Linked DNA regions of Homo sapiens: region 1 is linked to region 2. The links come from fine-mapping of genetic effects on gene expression. A gene starts in region 2. The other region holds a variant in brackets. All regions are shown on one strand. Distances are between the middles of the regions.

Region 1 (2,916 bases), 55 kb before region 2:
CTACCCTGCCTTCCCTTAAAACAGACATTTTACAATGTAAAAGAAGCGTTGCCAAGAAAAAAATAAAAGTTATAAAAGAGTATGATATTATACATAATAATAACTAATACTTACACAATGCTTACTATGTTCCAGGTACTATTCTAAGCACAAAAGCCTTATGAAATAGGTACAATTATTATCCTGCTTTATAGCTGAAGCAACTAACTCACACAGAGGTCAAGGAACTTGTCCAAGGTCACACAGCAATAACTGGTAGAGGCATGATTAAAACACCTTCTCAAAAAAACCAAAAAAACTAAACAAACCAACAAAAATGCCCCAAAACCCACAAATTTCATATCCTAATGGAACTATAAATTCTGACAAGTTCTATTTTATCAAATTAAGAAATCTAAATAATACTAGAATGTCACTTGTTCCATTGGGCTGTTTTGGCACATTTCTAATAGAAGAAAACATTACACTAAAACTTTTTACTCTTTAAAAATTCACACTATAGCACCAGATAATTTATCTTTCTCTACTCTATGTCAAGTCCTTCTTGCAAAGATTTCCACAGTAGCTCCAAACCTGCAATCATAATTAAAACAGACTATCGGCCGGGCATGGTGGCTCATGCCTGTAATCCCAGCACTTTGGGATGCCAAGGCGGACGGATCACGAGGTCAGGAGTTCAAGATCAGCCTGGCCAAAATGGTGAATCCCTGTCTCTACTGAAAATACAAAAATTAGCCAGGCGTGGTGGCAGGTGCCTGTAGTCCCAGCTACTCAGGAGGCTGAGGCATGAGAATCGCTTGAACCCAGGAGGCGGAGGTTGCAGTGAGCCGAGATCGTGCCACTGCACTCCAACCTGGGCAACAGAGCGAGACTCTGTCTCAAAAAAAAAAAAAAAAAAAGCACAGACTATCAGCTCCACAGGTTCTCTGTCTTTGTGCTTATATTTTTAATGGCAGATGGTTACCTTCTTTGGTAATGGCAGACTGAGTAACTCAGACCAGGCCTCCAATTGAAAATTCTTTTTTTTTTTTTTTTTTTTTTTTTTTTTGAGACGGAGTTTCGCTCTTGTTGCCCAGGCTGGAGTGCAATGGCGCGATCTCGGCTCATCGCAACCTCCTCCGCCTGCCAGGTTCAAGCAATTCTCCTGCCTCAGCCTCCCGAATAGCTGGGATTACAGACATGCGCCACCATGCCCAGCTAATTTTGTATTTTTAGTAGAGACGGGGTTTCTCCGTGTTGGTCAGGCTGGTCTGGAACTCCCAACCTTAGGTGATCCGCCCGCCTTGGCCTCCCAAAGTGCTGGGATTACAAGCGTGAGTTGCCGCGCCCAGCCATTGAAAATTCTTTAAAAGTTGGATTAATTTTCAAA[A/T]AATCTTCTTAAACATATAAAAGGCTAAAACGACAGTGAGGATTACTGGGCTAAAATCAAGAACATGAGAATCCAGAGAGTTAACCTCGGGACTCAAAGCTAATTTTGACATCAAGTAACAAGTGTGGAAATGAGCTTTGATTTTTGTGGCTCCCCAGGGCTAAAAGGGAAAAGCCAAAGTCCAAAAGCCTTCTAAAGGTGGGATATCTGAGAAACCACCTCCAATTAAAGCTAGGACCCAAAAAACTACATCCTCCAGAGTGAAAATGAACAGAAATAAACGAGGCATCACTAGACTTAATTTAACATCACGTTCAAGGAACTAAAAGCCTTGAACATGGATTCACATACTGGACTGGGAGCATCTCCATGTACCTGTCAGAAGCAAATGAATATCACCTCTGGACAAAGAAAACCCTACCTTAGCCTCAAAATATTTCTACAAATAAAATTTCAAAAACAACATTCAATTCTAAAGGATAATGAGAAACACAAGATAAAAAGAGACTATAAGCAAGAACTTTGAACTTACTAAGGAGGTCCTGAGCTGGTAGTGTGCTTGTATCAGACAGAAACCAGAACTGGGAAAATTTTAATGTAAATATTTTTCATTATGAAGGGTAGTTAATTACTAAAGGGGGTAAAAGAAGACTGTAAGGGATATGTTTAAACTAGCAAATACAGGAAGCCCCACTTTTAGGGCTGAAGGAAAATACATAGGGACAAGAAGGAACTAAAAATGTAGAAGAGCCCCCAATAACCACCAGACACATAGTCCTCATTGGAAATGGCCCAGCAGCCACAAAAATCTAAAGATTGCCAATAGTGAAAAAATTCACCAGAGCACACAGGCCAGAGATGGTTTGTAGAGTGGCCAGCAGTTGGTAGAGAAACTCACCAGAATGTGCAGGTAGGCCAGAACTGGTACTTGAAAGATGCTGAAGTGAGCTAACAGACCTCCCACATGGTGATGGGCTCACAGCTGTATAAAAAAAAAAAAAAAAAAAAAAAAAGCACACCAGAAGCTGGAAGAAAAGTCTCTTCCTCTTGCTAAGGACCGACAATGTCTTTCCATGCCCTCTATCTGTTGACAAAACCTAAAATCAAATCAGCGGGCAATAAAAAAGAAATGTTTACAGAGTCCAGTTCTAATATCACAAAGTAGGTAAAAAAAAGGAGTGATTTGGAGTTGAGAGACAATAAATTGATTACTGGCACAGTGCCCATGAACATGGAAGAATGAAATAAAAATTGTCTGTGGAGAAAAATATTTTTACCTTAGCCTCAAATTATTTTTAAAAAGTAATCTTTCAGGACAGGCGTGGTGGCTCCCGCCTATGATTCTAGCATTTGGGTAGGTTGAGGCAGAAAAATTGCTTGAGCTCAGTAGTTTGAGACTAGTCTGGGCAACATTCTGAGACCCTGTCTCCACAAAAAATTAAAAAAATTAGCTGGGCATGGTGGCACATGCCTGTAGTCCAAGCTTCAAAGCTACTTAGGAAGCTGAGGCAGGAGGACTGCTTGAATCTGGAAGATTGAGGCTGAAG
Region 2 (2,916 bases):
TAATCTTAAACATTTAAGAAAAATGTTACTGCCAAAGAAAGGATAATTCAATCCTGAGGTTCAAACTCATCGTACCGTTTATCTCCTAAGACCAGGAATCTTGGATTATCAAAAAGACCACTGGATGCTAACAGGGCCAAAAGTTTACTTAGAAACTTGGTTCACATGCCTAAGGCTATATTAACTGCCAAATATGGAGCTAGAGAAAAATTGCCATCATCTCCCACTCTAGTACACCGGGGCTCTCTTAACGACAGTTAATGTTTCCTAGATCCAGGTACCTGCAACACTAACGTTTGAAAGACCAGAACAAGGTACAGAGCCTTGAACCTAAAACCACAGTATCTTAATCCAAGTTAATATCCCACAACAATCATACAGGGAGAACAGGACTTTACTATTCCAGCTAAAAGTGCAAGTGCCTTTTTTTTGTTGTTGTTATGAAGGAAAAGGCACTCTCCTCCCACCCCCCAAATCCGTTAGAACATTAAGTATGTCTTGGGGAAAAAAGCTGATCTATGCAGGAAATTATAGACGAAAATCTATATTCGCCCCAAAGCGGCAAAGGGCCATCTTAAGAAATCTGCTTTTAGAGACGCAGGAAAAATTCTATCAGATTCCACTAACAAAATCAACACAATCTAGGGAAGCTTCTGTTCCTTTCTGTCCCCCCATCCCAACAAAAGCGGGAACCCATCCCCCAAAAGCCATTCCCGAGTCAATAAGGGATCGTCTGCATAAGAGGGGGACGAAGAAGGCGCACGTTACAGTTCCAGTATCCGAACACGTTCGGATTAAACCCGCGGTGGCAGGGAGAGGGGGGTTGGTCAAACACGACGGAACACTAGGTACTGGGTAAGCGAAGCGGCGGCTGCCTTCAAACCCGGATTCTGTTTCCGTGCACAGAAATGGTGCCCGGAGGCCGCCACTTTCGCATCTGCGTCGCTTCTGCCTCCGTCGACACAACCTCTTTTCCCCTCCCCCCACGGGCGGGGTGGCGACGGCCTCTCCGCTCCGAAGGAACAAGGTACAAGAGCCGAAAACGATTCGGAAACAGGAACGGTGGGCTACCCACCCTAAAACATCCCCTCCAGAAAGCCTGCTCCCACACTTCCTGTATTAAGCTTCCATCAGCGCGCCTTCGGGAGCTGCTGCGTGCCTCCCCCCCCACTTCGCCACCTCATCCCCAATAAACCTCAACCCCACCTGTGCACTCGGAGCCCTCTGCCCGCAAGACGCTCGCGGGTCACCTCCCTTCCCAGGCGGCCTCCCACCCCTCACCTAGAGGAAAGACTGGTCTTCTCTCACGCACACACGGCACCGTAGGGAGCCGGCAAGAACAATGTCTCTGCCGCTACACCTCCGGCTCCCGGGCTCACACACCGGACGATTGCCTCGCGCCGCGGAGCGCGAATGGAATGTCCCTTTCCGACCACCACACCGACCTCCCCTCCCGGCGCCCGTACACACCTCCAGCCAACGGCGGCGGCGGGTACGTCGCGCGGAGGTCAGAAGAGTCGCTGAGGACCGGGTGCGGCGGGTTCTTATTGCTCGCCGCCCCCTTCCTCCGACAACTCGGAAGCCTCGGAAGCCGGAGAGCCGCGAGTTCGTCTGCCTCACAACCACCTCTTCCCGGGCGCCAGGCGCTGCGACGTGCGACAAGGACCACGGACGTCCCGCCCCCTTTGCCACCGCCCCCTCTTATTGTTTTACCCCTGCCGAAAGGGCCAGGGAACCCCCGAGCACAGCGTCAGCCAATCACGCATCTCCTCCAGAGCCGGACCCAACCTTCCCGTGTCCCTCTGCGGAGCACGCGCAGTACGCTGCCGCGCTCGCACACGCTCGCGCCCGGAAAGCCGGGGAACCGGAACCGGCCTAAAGCCAAGATAAGAGTCCGCTGATTTGACGTCACAAGCAGGCTGCCTTTCTCCGGTCCCGAGGCTCCAGCCTTGCCGCCCTTCTTCCTGATCGCGCAAGCGAGAGCTGGTTCGCAGCAACGCAGTGTCTTTTGTAGACTGATATTCTGGTCCTTTTTATTAATGGGAAGGAGGGAATTTAGTAATCTCTCTGAATAGGTGTCTGCAGGTTGCTGCTGTAGACGAGCTTAAAATGCAGCCGGTGATTTCAGCTGTTTGCACACTAAACTCACCTACATTGTTTACTTAACCCATCCTAGGTTTTAAGCCCCATTAAGAGGCCCTGCAGTAAAGGAAGAACATGACGTGGGCTTTACAGAGGGGGAAAAGACTATTTCTTTGTGTCCTTGTTACGAATTTAGGCATGGCTAAATATCAGTAGATACTAAAGCATTTTACATACTAAAGCTAAAAGAAGGCCTGAAATACAAGGATTACAGTCCTGTTCTAGCTCTAAGCCCAGACTTGCCCCCAGGGTGAGACACTGGTGACCTTGTTTCATGGACAAAGCCAAGCCAAATCTTGTAGTCAAGGAAGCCACTTTGCATCTTAGGTCTGGCAGTGTTTTCAGAGAATACCGAGATAGCACAGGAATTTTGGAATGAAGGACTGAGGAAGTGTTCAAAGAAACGGAAAGGAAAAAATACATTAATGAATGCTTACGAACTAAACATGGTGGACGCAAGCATGTACATCTCATCAGTTTTCTTCGCAATCCTGTAAGGGCAATTTTAAGGTATTTGGCATGTTAAGACAATACGTCAAATACCTTAAATATTGGCAGAGGCAATGCCAACATTAGGGCCTCCAAAGTCTACAATATCTTTACCTTTAGACTGCTTAAAGATACTGTTATATGCAAAATATTTGGGCAGACCATCACTTTAATGAAATCAACCTGATGTTTTTCCTTAAAGCATCAAAATACATTACATGCCGGCTGTCCTTTAATATACTGGGCTTATATACCAGGCATTCTTGTAATTATACAGCCTTCTGA

What was found. PIP is the estimated chance that this variant, and not a neighbour inherited with it, causes the effect. A credible set is the group of variants that fine-mapping cannot tell apart.
Region 1: its variant is the best candidate, but not a certain one, in a credible set for the expression of G3BP2 in whole blood (INTERVAL, PIP 0.86).

What each region holds. Positions count from the first base shown.
Region 1 is chr4:75,617,221-75,620,136 of GRCh38, forward strand. The region is part of intron 2 of CDKL2 (cyclin dependent kinase like 2); the gene reads right to left. Among named protein-coding and RNA genes, the nearest start is that of CDKL2, 12 kb to the right of the region's middle. The variant A/T (reference allele first, on the strand shown) is at 1,370.
Region 2 is chr4:75,671,738-75,674,653 of GRCh38, forward strand. It overlaps G3BP2 (G3BP stress granule assembly factor 2), which reads right to left and starts at 1,674. Exons shown (of 12, transcript NM_203505.3): 1 at 1,471-1,674. RefSeq lists enhancers at 554-1,531, 964-1,203, 1,484-1,773, 2,510-2,916.